Homo sapiens: one gene and its partners. The protein of the gene in region 1 purifies or fractionates together with the protein of each later gene. This does not show direct contact. Each region holds a gene or a part of one and is shown in the gene's direction. Other genes may lie near its edges.

What was found. The genes of interacting proteins can lie anywhere in the genome.
Region 2: the proteins of SV2A (region 1) and CHSY3 purify together in Homo sapiens (affinity purification with mass spectrometry; one large-scale study listed by BioGRID and IntAct). This does not show direct contact.
Region 3: the proteins of SV2A (region 1) and C17orf75 purify together in Homo sapiens (affinity purification with mass spectrometry; 2 studies listed by BioGRID and IntAct, with this or other methods). This does not show direct contact.
Region 4: the proteins of SV2A (region 1) and GFPT2 purify together in Homo sapiens (affinity purification with mass spectrometry; one large-scale study listed by BioGRID and IntAct). This does not show direct contact.

What each region holds. Positions count from the first base shown.
Region 1 is NC_000001.11:149,907,845-149,911,344, reverse strand, and holds part of SV2A (synaptic vesicle glycoprotein 2A), read left to right. Parts: intron 1-367; coding exon 368-519; intron 520-641; coding exon 642-775; intron 776-1,454; coding exon 1,455-1,544; intron 1,545-1,773; coding exon 1,774-1,884; intron 1,885-2,064; coding exon 2,065-2,153; intron 2,154-3,138; coding exon 3,139-3,303; intron 3,304-3,500. UniProt on the Homo sapiens protein: Plays a role in the control of regulated secretion in neural and endocrine cells, enhancing selectively low-frequency neurotransmission.
Region 2 is NC_000005.10:130,183,800-130,187,134, forward strand, and holds the end of CHSY3 (chondroitin sulfate synthase 3), read left to right. Parts: intron 1-429; coding exon 430-1,992; 3' UTR 1,993-2,835; downstream 2,836-3,335. UniProt on the Homo sapiens protein: Has both beta-1,3-glucuronic acid and beta-1,4-N-acetylgalactosamine transferase activity. Transfers glucuronic acid (GlcUA) from UDP-GlcUA and N-acetylgalactosamine (GalNAc) from UDP-GalNAc to the non-reducing end of the elongating chondroitin polymer.
Region 3 is NC_000017.11:32,332,174-32,335,673, reverse strand, and holds part of C17orf75 (protein Njmu-R1), read left to right. Parts: intron 1-231; coding exon 232-351; intron 352-834; coding exon 835-899; intron 900-1,068; coding exon 1,069-1,205; intron 1,206-2,153; coding exon 2,154-2,257; intron 2,258-3,500. UniProt on the Homo sapiens protein: As component of the WDR11 complex acts together with TBC1D23 to facilitate the golgin-mediated capture of vesicles generated using AP-1. May have a role in spermatogenesis.
Region 4 is NC_000005.10:180,304,837-180,308,336, reverse strand, and holds part of GFPT2 (glutamine--fructose-6-phosphate aminotransferase [isomerizing] 2), read left to right. Parts: intron 1-1,033; coding exon 1,034-1,161; intron 1,162-3,397; coding exon 3,398-3,500. UniProt on the Homo sapiens protein: Controls the flux of glucose into the hexosamine pathway. Most likely involved in regulating the availability of precursors for N- and O-linked glycosylation of proteins.

The sequences.
Region 1 (3,500 bases):
TTCAACTCCAAGCTCCTTTCTGGCCATTCCCACAACATCTGCCCTTGGAGGCTTTTGGCTTGTCTTTTTTCTCTGGAGATTTATTCTCTTTTCTGCAATTACTTTCCCGCCCTTCCAACTCTGTAATTCATTTTCAAGATTTAAGATTTGCTCTTTCCCTTTCCCTGAGACTCGCTTGCCTGTTTCCCATGGTCCCAAGGATGGGTGCTTGATGGCTGGCCCACATGGGAGCTTGTAAGGCTTTATGTGTGAGATGGAGTCTCTTCAAAAGCCTGGAAGACAAAAGGGGCTCGGGGTCCAGAGCAGTGGGGCAGGGGATCAGGACTATGGCCATTTGCTAATGCTGAATTCTTGAAATGCACTTCAGGATTGGAGGGTCCATCCCCATTGTCTTCTCCTATTTCTCCGAGTTTCTGGCCCAGGAGAAACGAGGGGAGCATTTGAGCTGGCTCTGCATGTTTTGGATGATTGGTGGCGTGTACGCAGCTGCTATGGCCTGGGCCATCATCCCCCACTATGGTGAGCAGCCCCCGGAAATCCACCCCAGGTTATCTCCCTCCTCCCTCTTCTTCTGTGCTCCCTGTGGTGGGTTCCCCCAGCCTCTGGCCTCTCTGCTGATGCTGTCACTTTCTCCCTACCAGGGTGGAGTTTTCAGATGGGTTCTGCCTACCAGTTCCACAGCTGGAGGGTCTTCGTCCTCGTCTGCGCCTTTCCTTCTGTGTTTGCCATTGGGGCTCTGACCACGCAGCCTGAGAGCCCCCGTTTCTTCCTAGAGGTGATGGGGCTGAGCTGCATGGGGTGGGGTGGGGTGCGGGCTGTGGAGTGTGGACGGCAGCAGGGGCTTCTGTGTTCAAACACCAACTGGAGTTTGATTTGATCCTGTTTGACTGCCTGCCTTCCTCACAGAGTCCACTCTCCAGGGGACTTTATCTTGCATTCTTTGCCTTGGAATGTGTCCCTGAGGGGTTCTTGGGTGGAGAAACCAGGGGACCTCTTTACCCATGGATGACTTAAGATTTTGCAGGGAAGGGCCTTGGCCCTGTCCTGCATTTACAGCTCAAGAGACATTCCCACCCCCTATACCTTCCCCTCCTAACCCCAGCAGGATTAGGTCTTTGACTACATGCTTGCCCATCATTTCCCTTACCTTTGGTTTTTACATTCCTCTGTACTATGGAATTCCCAAGACCTGTGCTTGCCTTTTTCCCCTGGACAACACTCCCCACCCCCAACCCGCAGCTCTTGCCCAAGTCTGATTGTCTTGCTATACCTCAGCTTGGGGCTCTTTCAGAGTGGTGAGTGCATGCCCATAGGTCAGGGCTTGGTGGTGGGGTTGAGGGCTGGGAACCATTTAGTGTCCTGTGACTACAGAAGCCAGGTGGGAGGGAGGGGGTCTATAACTCTGGGTCAGGTAGGGGCTGACTTGGATGTGGGGATTGTGTCTTTGGCTCTAGAATGGAAAGCATGATGAGGCCTGGATGGTGCTGAAGCAGGTCCATGATACCAACATGCGAGCCAAAGGACATCCTGAGCGAGTGTTCTCAGTAAGCCACAGCCCTCCCGACTCAGACCTCCACGCCCTGCAGCCCCAGCCCCTACCTGGCCCCTCTCTGAGTACCCCCCACCTCAGACCACACTCTACCGTAAGGAGATTTTCAGGGTATCATATCCACCTCCTGCCTCCCATTTTGCTAATGCAGGGGAAACTGAGGCGCCTGGCCGATGTTGGGAAACACAGAGTGTGTGACTGCCCACCCCTTCTCTTGACCCCAGGTAACCCACATTAAGACGATTCATCAGGAGGATGAATTGATTGAGATCCAGTCGGACACAGGGACCTGGTACCAGCGCTGGGGGGTCCGGGCCTTGAGCCTAGGGGGGCAGGTAATGGTGGACGGGGTGGTAGATAGAAGGGAGTGGGGGAAGTGGAGAAGAAGGCAGGACTGAAGTCTATGTGTGTGGGTGATGGGTGAGCTGAAGGGAGGTGGGAGGGCAGAAAAGTGGGGATCTATGGGTGCTAGAACTTAGTATAGTCAAGGTCTGACTTTGTCTGGTCCCCTGTAGGTTTGGGGGAATTTTCTCTCCTGTTTTGGTCCCGAATATCGGCGCATCACTCTGATGATGATGGGTGTGTGGTTCACCATGTCATTCAGGTGAGGAGATGGGTGGGCTGGGTGATGTGTGGTGGTTGTGGTGGTGTGTGGGCTGGGAGAGAGGTGGGGAGAATGGAGATGCAGGGGACAAGCGATGAGGGAAGGTGCCATGCAGACCCCCTCTGATCCTGCAGCCAGCTCCTCTACTTCGCTAGTTCACTCAACAAACTTGTACTGTAGGCTGACCAGGATTCAGTTTCTATTCTGTGCTGGGATGAAACAGATGTGGTCCAAGGTCCTCCTGGAGTTTATGTTTTGGTTAAGAAGCAGGACGATGAGGCTCGTAATCCCAGCACTTTGGGAGGACGAGGCGGGCGGATCATGAGGTTAGGAGATCGAGACCATCCTGGCTACGGTGAAACCCCGTCTCTACTAACATACAAAAAATTAGCCGGGCATGGTGGTGGGCGCCTGTAGTCCCAGCTACTCTGGAGGCTGAGGCAGGAGAATGGTGTGAATCCGGGAGGCAGAGGTTGCAGTGAGTCGAGATCGCGCCACTGCACTCCAGCCTGGGTGACAGAGCGAGACTCCGTCTCAAAAGAAAAAAAAGAAGTGAGACGAAACTTGCTATGAAGCAGGGTGATGAGAGAAGGGTGGGGGAAGGGCAGTGGGAGCACTTGGGGCTTGGGCTGGGGTGGGGACCTAAGTCCTCAAAGGTGAATGGGAGTCAGACAGGTGGAGTGGGGGTGGCTGGGGTGGAGAAGAGTGTTTTTGGCAGAGGGAAAAGCAAATGCTTGGGAGGTAAGAAAAAGTATAGTGGCTGCTGTGCGAGACCCTGAAGTCCCCCAGGAGCGCAGCAACTGTTGAAGGGAGGAGCAGGGAGAAGCTGGTGAGGCTGGAGAGGAGCAAGGTCCTAACAGAGGTTGACTCCATTTCTCCCTTGTTCTGAGATGATACACATTTCCGTTTTCTCCTCTGCCTGATTCTAATCTCTGAGCCTTGTCTGAAGCCCTGTTGTCTGTTTCCATTGTCCTTGACTCTTCAGCTACTATGGCCTGACCGTCTGGTTTCCTGACATGATCCGCCATCTCCAGGCAGTGGACTACGCATCCCGCACCAAAGTGTTCCCCGGGGAGCGCGTAGAGCATGTAACTTTTAACTTCACGTTGGAGAATCAGATCCACCGAGGCGGGCAGTACTTCAATGACAAGTATGTGGGGACTTTTAAACTTCACTTCTTCCCTGTTCCTTCTACCTCGTCTCTTTTATGAGTCTAGGGGTTCAAGACAAGACATTTGGGGGGCAAACACTTGTGGTTTCTTCTCAATGCCCAGCTTCCCATTACTTCGCTAAAGAGTGAGTCTTGGAGGGGGCATGAGGATGACGGGGGAGTGTCTTTCACCATCC
Region 2 (3,335 bases), on another chromosome or scaffold:
TTAGATAGGAGGAATAAATTCAAGTGATCTATTGAATACATGATGACTATAGTTAATAACTATATTATATACTTTAAAATGCTAAAAAAAGATGATAAATGTTCTCACCACAATAATAACTATGTGAGGTAATGAATACATCAATTAGCTAGATTTACTCATCCCACTATATGTATATTCTCTATATATTATATATATATACTTCAAAACATGTGGTACATGATAAGTACATGGAATTTCATCTACCAATTACAAATAATAAAACTATTTTAATTTTAAATAATATAAATATTACAAACCATTTTTGTTATGAAATACCATACCAAAAATGTATTAACATTTTCATTTAGATGCTTTAGTTTATCGCTGGTTTTCTTTTTAGATAAATCTTTTAAAATTAACCCTGATTTTTTTAATTTTACTTTTCAGATGCAACAACTGTTCCATGAAAATTATGAACACAATCGGAAGGGTTACATCCAAGACCTTCACAATAGCAAAATCCATGCAGCCATAACACTTCATCCCAACAAAAGGCCTGCATACCAATACAGGCTGCATAATTACATGCTCAGCCGCAAAATTTCTGAACTTCGCTACCGCACCATCCAGCTCCACAGGGAAAGTGCCCTGATGAGCAAGCTCAGTAACACAGAAGTGAGCAAAGAGGACCAGCAGCTGGGAGTGATACCTTCTTTCAACCACTTCCAGCCTCGGGAGAGAAATGAAGTGATAGAATGGGAGTTCCTGACAGGGAAGCTTCTATACTCAGCAGCTGAGAACCAGCCCCCTCGACAGAGCCTCAGTAGCATTTTAAGAACAGCACTGGATGATACCGTCCTACAGGTGATGGAGATGATCAATGAGAATGCCAAGAGCAGAGGACGGCTCATTGACTTCAAGGAAATTCAGTATGGCTACCGCAGAGTTAACCCCATGCACGGGGTGGAGTACATTTTGGATTTACTCCTTTTATACAAAAGACACAAGGGAAGGAAACTGACTGTGCCAGTGAGACGTCATGCCTATCTTCAGCAGTTGTTCAGCAAGCCTTTCTTCAGAGAGACCGAAGAGCTAGATGTCAACAGTCTTGTGGAGAGTATTAACAGTGAAACTCAGTCATTCTCCTTTATATCTAATTCTTTAAAGATATTATCTTCTTTTCAAGGTGCCAAAGAAATGGGAGGGCACAATGAAAAGAAAGTACACATTCTCGTTCCTCTCATCGGAAGGTATGACATTTTCTTGAGATTCATGGAGAACTTTGAAAACATGTGTCTTATCCCAAAGCAGAATGTAAAGTTGGTCATTATCCTTTTCAGTAGGGATTCTGGCCAAGACTCCAGCAAGCATATTGAGCTGATAAAAGGGTACCAGAACAAGTACCCCAAAGCAGAAATGACCCTGATCCCAATGAAGGGAGAGTTTTCCAGAGGTCTTGGTCTTGAAATGGCTTCTGCCCAGTTTGACAATGACACTTTGCTGCTATTTTGTGATGTTGACTTGATCTTCAGAGAAGATTTTCTCCAACGATGTAGAGACAATACAATTCAGGGACAACAGGTGTACTATCCCATCATCTTTAGCCAGTATGACCCAAAGGTAACAAACGGGGGAAATCCTCCCACTGATGATTACTTCATATTCTCAAAAAAGACTGGATTTTGGAGAGACTATGGATATGGCATCACCTGTATTTACAAAAGTGATCTTCTAGGTGCAGGTGGATTTGATACCTCAATACAAGGCTGGGGACTAGAAGATGTAGATCTCTACAATAAAGTCATTCTATCTGGCTTAAGGCCATTCAGAAGCCAAGAAGTAGGAGTGGTGCATATTTTCCATCCAGTTCATTGTGATCCTAACTTGGACCCTAAGCAGTATAAGATGTGCTTAGGATCCAAGGCAAGTACTTTCGCCTCAACCATGCAACTGGCTGAACTCTGGCTTGAAAAACATTTAGGTGTCAGGTACAATCGAACTCTCTCCTGACAGTCCAGGCAACACATTTTGCCTTTTTTAAGGGGAGTTTACCTCATTGTTGGTTGTTGTTATTTTTATTGTATTATTGTTATTTTATTATTATTATTGTTATAATTTTATTTTGTTGTCCTGGTCTTAAACTACTCTTGGTTGTCTTCCTAAGGGTGTTTGTTGACCTCAAGCAAGAAGAGTCTGCAGTTCACTGATGTTTCAGATTTCTACTGAAGTCAATATGTTATTACTTTTATATAACTTTATTTGAGATTGAGTTAAATCATAGCAATCAAATGACTTTTGAAACGCATTCATCACAAGAGACAGCTTAGAAGAATGTTCTCTTGGGGCTTAAAGATGCAATATCGACTTTTATTTGGTTTCTCAAATTCAATGTGATACAAATATTTACTGGTGAAAGGTACCACAAAAGTGCTTTATGCTTCCTATGGGGAAGGGACTCTGTAACATAAACTTGAGTTTTGTAATTTATACAAGGACTTAAATATATAAACAATAATTTTCTTCATCTTTAGAATTTTTAAAGTAAATGAATACCTATGATTGTATGTTTATTTTTTAAAAAAAGTTTTAAAAATTGAGGAGTTTTGTTCCACAAGCAACCGGTACTGGCTACCCTGGTCTTATGACAATTATGAGCTCCTCACAACTGTCTGCTATAAATGCGAATGAACTTTATTTTCTCAAGGAAATATGATTTAATTAAATATTCATGTACATTTTAGAAGCTTTATGAAACAATGTCCTTCATTTGCTGGCAAGAAGATAAAATATGACAGAACCTGTTTATTTAAAATAAAACACAGGTATAGCAGTATTCTTTTTCAAAAACACTGACAAGGTTTTGTTGTTTCCTTTTATTCACACTTGATATGTTTCTGTTCATATTCACCAAAACATGCTTGCTGAGCAGCTTGAAAAGTTAACAAGGGATTATGGTATGCTGTTTGTTTTATTATACTGGAAAACCTAGCCTTCATAAGTGATTAAACTGAGCAATTTCTTTACTCAATAATTTACCATCTGGGAGAAACATCCTTCCTCAATCTCTTCAGCTTTGGGATCAAGCTGACCCAAGAACAGTTCAAAAATTGCCTTTAATATGGGTTGGTAGGTATCTCAAAAGTCACTGGAGAAATTATTAATATGACATCAATTTTATAATTATTAAAAATACGTCAGGAAATATCTCATTTAGTTTTACATATCATTCTTTCTTTGACCTGGATCAGTGGTGTCCAGTTTCTAGAAAAGCATAATTGGATTAAAGAAGTGTAAGAGAAAATGAACATCCATCCAATGGAGTGTCATTAAGGCATATTATAAAATCTTATTTT
Region 3 (3,500 bases), on another chromosome or scaffold:
ATGCATTTCTTGGTGTGTTTTAAATAAATTCAGTACAGATTTAACCCTCACCCTGCCCAACAAGCCAGGAAAGGTATATCACAATTTCTTTTTTTGAATTGGTGGTGTTAGCTTTAAAAAGGGAGGTGTCTATCCTGGTCTTTTTCACCATCAAGGATATGATGAAGAAAATATGAAGTCCACTAAAGGAAAGGCTTATATTAAAGCAAATGATGTTCTTTCTTGATTTAGGCAAGGGGCCTGGAGAGTCACATAAAATCCTATCTGAGCAGCTGGTTTGAGGATGTTGTATGCCCAATCCAAAGGGTTGTTCTTCTCTTTCAGGAAAAGCTTACCTTTCTGCTACATGCTGTAAGTACTGCCAAATGAGAGCATTTCCTTAACTGAGAATCACTTTGGATGATTTAGAAACATACTCATTTTCTCTGAACATGACTCCCATCCCTCCCCAAATATTCAAACTATGCTTGCTATCAAGATAGACCACACTTTATTTTCTCAGATCTAGAAAGTGATATTACTAAGGTAGAGTTGAATTTCAAATGCTGAGTCTTCCTAATAGGATAAAACATTTTAAAATAATTACTTTTCCAAGTGATCTGGGAAAGGTATAGTTTCCAAAACAATTTGAAAAGGAAAACAAAAATCCAGAGCAATTTTGATTCTATAAAATGTTAATGAGCAGTGGCTGAACAAGGCTCTGGAGAGCTTGTGACCAGTGCCCATCAATTGTTGTCCAGTGTGGTAGGGACTTATGGGGACATTTAGTCATGAGTAGCTGCTCAAGAAAAACTGGAATATATGTACCAATCAGGCTTTATTTTTCTCTCATAGGCTTTGAGTTACACTCCTGTTGAAGTTAAAGAATCAGATGAAAAAACAAAGAGAGACATTAACAGGTAAAGAACAGTTTTTTCAAAGAGAAAAGCTTTTCCACAGCAAGATTGACATCTGTGTTTGTAAACTGCTCCTTCCATCCCTTCCCCACCAGCCCAGTGCAAAATAAATTTGTTTTCATCCTTCCGTCCTGCAATATTGTTTGTGGAAATGGACTTGTGTGTGTGGCAGGTTTCTGAGTGTGGCCAGTCTTCAAGGACTTATTCATGAAGGCACCATGACTTCTTTGTGCATGGCCATGACAGAGGAGCAGCATAAGTCTGTGGTCATCGATTGCAGCAGCTCCCAGCCTCAGTTCTGCAATGCAGGTGAGCTACAACCTCTGAAGCAGCCTTCCTACATCTCTTGCGAGTCCCCATCTTTGCACTGAGAGCCTATGATACAACCTTATTCTTCCTGCCTTGTGCAGTTTTACATGGTTATCTCAAACCATGAGAAACCACTTGGTGAAAACAATATAATTCTAGAAACATGGAAATCATGCCATGCCTAGCAATTCCACACCTAGGTACATAAAGAAATTCTAGTATGTGTACACAAGGAGATGAATTTTAAAATGTCCATAAAGGCATTACTTGAAAAAGCAAGGAATTGGAAGCAATTTAAGTGTTTATCAACAAGAAAACTGATAAGCTGCTATATTCATGCAATGGAATATAACAGAGCAGTGAAAAAGAATGAACTAGAGCTACTTGTGTCAATATAGCTCTCAAACATACTATTTAGTGAAATAGCCATAAAAGAAAAAATACATAAAAGTTTTAACATATGCAGAATAATGTAGATAAGGCTTACACGTGCAAAGGTATATGGGAAAAGTTTAAAGACGTCTGTGGGAATGATTATCCTCTCTGATGGGAAAGGAAGGGGGATGTGATTGGGAAGGGGCATACAGGGGGCTTCAGCCATTTTGGTATTCCTTAGCCATGTGGTGAGCACACTGTTTTTTTAGGCCATTATACATGTCTTAAATAATTCATTATAGGTGTTTTTATAAAGAAATAAATGGGTCAGGCGCAGTGGCTCACACATGTAATCCCAGCACTTTGGGAGGCTGAGGCAGGTGGATCATCTGAGGTCAGGAGTTTGAGACCAGCCTGGCCAATATGGTGAAACCCCATCTCTACTAACGATATAGTTAGTACTCCGGCTGCACTCCAGCCGGGCAACAAGAGCGAATCTCCCGTCTCAAATAAATAAATAAATAAAGCTTTGTAAAATTTCATTTTATTTAGTCTCTCTGAAATGTTTTATAGGAAGTAACCGGTTTTGTGAGGATTGGATGCAAGCTTTTTTAAATGGTGCCAAAGGAGGTAACCCTTTTCTTTTCCGACAAGTACTGGAGAACTTTAAACTAAAGGTAATTAGTTGGCTGTGTGCCAAGTGCCACATGAAATTTTTGTCTGAATTTTAATTAGTACCAGTGACAGAGTAACAAATTGCTTTATAGCTGTGATGTCTGTTAATTAGGATGTTCTCAAAACTGGAATTATCAGAAGACATTTACTTTATTTTTTGGCAGCTTCTGTATACATATCATTTCTAATAAATTGGGTTGAATGCTTGCTTATATTTAAGGAACATCAGTCTTACAATTTGTGACTTAACTTAGTTGGAAAGCACAAAAAAACTGGTTCAGTGGCTAAGTTTTCAAAATTCTGATGGGGGCTGGGCGCAGTGGCTCACCCCTGTAATCCCAGCACTTTGGGAGACCATGGCAGGTGGATTGCTTGAGGCCAGGAGTTCAAGACCAGCCTGGCCAACATGGCAAAACCCTTTCTCTACTAAAATTATAAAAATTAGCTGGGCCTGGTGGCGCATGCCTGTAATCCTGGCTATGTCAGGTGGCTGAGGCACGAAAATTGCTTGAACCCAGGAGGCAGAGGTTGCAGTGAGCCCAGATTGTGCCACTGCACTCCGACCTAGGTGACAGAGTGAGACTCTGTCTAAAAAAAAAAAATTCTGATGGGGACGTGTTGTCACCTTATTTAGTTTTGTTTGTTTGTTTTAAGAGACAGAATCTTACTCTGTCACTCAGGCTAGAGTGCAGTGGTGCAATCATGGCTTACTGCAGCCTTAACCTCCTGGGTTCAAGCAGTCTTCCTGTCTCAGCCTCCTGAGTAGCTGGAACTACAGGTGTGCACCACCACACTCAGCTAATTATTTTTATTTTTTGTAGAGACGGGGTCTTGCTGTGTTGCCCAGGCTAGTCTCAAACTACCGGCCCTTAGGCAATCCTTTTGCCTGGGGCTCCCAAAGTGTTGGGATTACAGACATGAGCCACCATGCTAGGTAGATTATTTTAAAGTATTTTTATTTTGTATAAGAGATTTTTGGCTGCGCGTGGTGGCTCACGCCTGTAATTCCAACACTTTGGGAGGCTGAGGCGGGTGGATCACTTGAGGTCAGAAGTTCGAGACCAGCCTGACCAACATGGTGAAACCCCGTCTCTACTGAAAATACAAAATTAGCCTGGTGTGGTGGCACACACCTGTAGTCCCAGGTACTTGGGAGGCTGAGGCAGGAGAATCACTTGAACCCAGGAGGCAGAGTTTGTGGTGAACCGAGATCAAGCCATTGCGCTTCAGCCTGGGCAACAAGAG
Region 4 (3,500 bases), on another chromosome or scaffold:
TAGTGTTGTTATTTTAAAGTGAATATTTTTAAATTTCTCATTGTTAGTTTCTTTCTTTCTTTTTCTTCTTTTTTTTTTTTCGAGATGGAGTCTCGCTCTGTTGCCCAGGCTGGAGTGCCGTGGTGCCATCTCAGCTCACTGCAAGCTCCGCCTCCCAGGTTCACGCCACTCTCCTGCCTCAGCCTCCCGAGTAGCTGGGACTACAGGCGCCCGCCACCATGCCCGGCTAATTTTTTGTATTTTTAGTAGATACCAGGTCTCACCATGTTAGCCAGGATGGTCTCGATCTCCTGACCTCGTGATCCGCCTGCCCCAGCCTTCCAAAGTGCTGGGATTACAGGCGTGAGCCACCGCACCCAACCACGCCCGGCTAATTTTTTGTATTTTTAGTAGAGACGGGGTTTTACCATGTTAGCCAGGATGGTCTCGATCTCCTGACCTCATGATCCACCCGCCTCGGCCTCCCAAAGTGCGGCGATTACAGGCGTGAGCCACCACGCCTGGTCCTCAGTGTTATTTTCTAATCTGGTAAATGTTGACAGATTTAACTCAAAAACAAAGGCTCTTGGGGATGTGCAATAATTTGAGGGACTTGCAATAATTTTCAAGAGTGTAAAGGAGTCCTGAGACCAAAGGGTTTGAGAACCGGTGGTCCCACTTACAGGGGCCTTGTCTTGAGACACAGCAGGAAAGAGGGGTGTTAACTGGTGGTGTCAGCTCTGTCTCCAGTGGGTGATTTTTGCCTCTCTGAGCCTCAGTTGTCTTACCTGCAAAACGGAGTGAGAAATGGTACTTCCTACCTTGTTGGTGCTCAAGAAAGTGTTCACACAACACGAATCCCCATCCTAACAGAATCCTGGCCAGGAGCCCAAGTTATTTCCTGTAATCTACGTTTGAAACGAATGCGAGGAAGCAAAGTGTGCTAAGTGATGCGGTTTCAAAAGCTCCTCTTAAACCCCAGCATTTGTCTTCATGAATATTGCTTTAAAGTCGGCCTGACTGGTTTTCTCCCTCTGCTCCGTGCATGGCCCAGAGCTGATCAAGGAAGTGCTGTCTCTGGAGGAGAAGATCCACGACTTGGCCCTGGAGCTCTACACGCAGAGATCGCTGCTGGTGATGGGGCGGGGCTACAACTATGCCACCTGCCTGGAAGGAGCCCTGGTGAGCCCCCACCCCCAGCCCCCACCCCCACGGAGGACAGGCACAGGAGACCCTGAGGAGCCAGCGGGAAGGAGGGCAGGGCGTTGGGCTTGGGGAGGGCCGGGCCTAAGGACCCCTTGGCCAGTCCTGTGAGCCTGCGCTGAGCACCAGCTCTCCACCAGGTTTCTAGCCCTGGGCACACAGAGATGGGTGAGGCAGGTGCCTGCCCCCAGGGATCTCCCAATCTACTGAGGAGAAAGGGACAGGGCGCCTGGGGTGTGCCCCTCCGGCTGTCCAGGCACTGCCAGGGTCCACTTGGAACAGCTCACTCAGACCTCATGAGCTGCTTCTGAGAGGTTGGCGGTTGCTATTCACCCTCATTCAGGAGGAAACAAAGCCTCTGAAAGCTTAAGTATCTCACTCAAGATGACGTAGGGGACCCGAATCAGACCTGAGTCCATGGGGCCTTCGCTTTTTTCCACCAAAATTGAGGGGTGGGTTCTCCGCAGAGTTTCCTTGTTACCCCTCAAACTTCCAAGGGGAGTTTGAGATCCTGCAGGAATTAACTTCGAAGGCCTTGCTTTTTCAAAAATTGGTGACAGGCCATTTGCCCCCTGCAGCATTAAAGATCCACGCCAGGAAAGAGAAAGCTGATGGGGCAGGGACAGGGTGCCAGGGCCACAGGGCTGCCCAGAGGGTGGGCAGAGAGCCGTGCAGGGTCCTGCATCTCGGACTTGCCCTTTCCTCGCTGTCAGCATGCCATGCACGGAGCAGATGCTCAGCCCAGGTGACGGGGACAGTGCTCCAGCTGAGGCTGCACTGGCCACCAAGACGAGGGCATTAACCGTGGCCCAGCTGGGCTGCCATCCTCTCCCATCTCCTCCCCACCACCCCCATTTGAAAGACAATGCTAGGCTGGCACAGTGGTCCACGCCTGTAATCCCAGCACTTTGGGAGGCCAAGGCAGTCAGATCATTTGAGGTCAGGAGTTCGAGACCAGCCTGGACAACATGGTAAAAGCCCATCTCTACCAAAAATTCAAAAACTAGCTGGGCGTGGTGGTGCACGCCTGTAATCCCAGCTACATGGGAGGCTGAGGCAGGAGAATCGCTTGAATCCAAGAGGAGGAGGTTGCAGTGAGCCAAGATCATGCCACTGCACTCCAGCCTGGGAGACAGAACGAGACTCCCATCTCAACGAAAAAAAAAAAAAAGAAAGAAAGAAAAAAAAAAGAAAGACAATGCCAGTTACAAGTGGTTACCGGAAACATTCAGAGTTGATTTCCTTGGTCTTGGTGGGGAGTGCAGGGCTGTCCTCACTGAGCTCCATCTCCTGCACCTGCCCCCTGGAGATTCTGACTCCTGTTAAAGAACAGGCAGGTGCTGCTTCTTGGAGTGCAGTAGAGGCAAGGCCTGGGGTGCACTGTCAGTCCCCAGATGACTCTGCGTCATGGGTGGGGGCTGAGCTGCGGTGGCTGAACGTGCTGGCGGGAGATGCACATTGCAGCTATGCCTCCGCATGAGTCTGCTGAAGGAAGAAGCGTTTAGGTGGCTGCTGGCACGAGCCCATGGTCCTCTGGTCACTGGGAGGCCGGCACTGCAGCTGTCTGCGCCTCCAGACTGGAGCCGCACTCCTTACAGTGTGGCCCTGACCTAAATCAGCAGTGCTAGCGGGGAGTCGAGAGATGATTTATTTGACTGTCTCACCATTTCAATGACGTGGATTTGTGGTAACTGAATAGAGATGGATCTACCTGAACACAGGAAAAAAATTAATTCAAATAACACCCCAGTTTGTGTGATTTTGCTTGGAACCACTCTTTAGAAGTTATTAATGGGCAAATGCTTAATCAGATAATTAACTGAAGGTGTAGCTAAGCTGAATACGATGCTGTCGTTATACACGTGGCTGGCTAGGGAGGAGCAGGGGGTGAGCTAGGCTGACTCCGACTTGTTTGTCCTAAGGGGTGGCTGTGCGTGGGACTGGAGAGAGACAACAGCAGTGCCCGGGGCTGGTGTGGGGACACAGAGGTTGTGTCCCGGGCTGGTGCATGCTCTGGATGGTAGCCAGGCCTCTCCCCAGGCCCTTGCTGGGTGTCCTCAGTGCTGTCAAGCACTCCAGGCATCTGTCTGCCTTGCAACCCTTGGCTCTCTGCCTTCCAGAGTCATCCTTCCCCTGGTTCCCCTTCTTCCCCTCTGGCTGATCTGCTCCAGCCCCATCTGCCCAGTGTGACTCTGATCTCACCTCCTGTTTCCAGAAAATTAAAGAGATAACCTACATGCACTCAGAAGGCATCCTGGCTGGGGAGCTGAAGCACGGGCCCCTGGCACTGATTGACAAGCAGATGCCCGTCATCATGG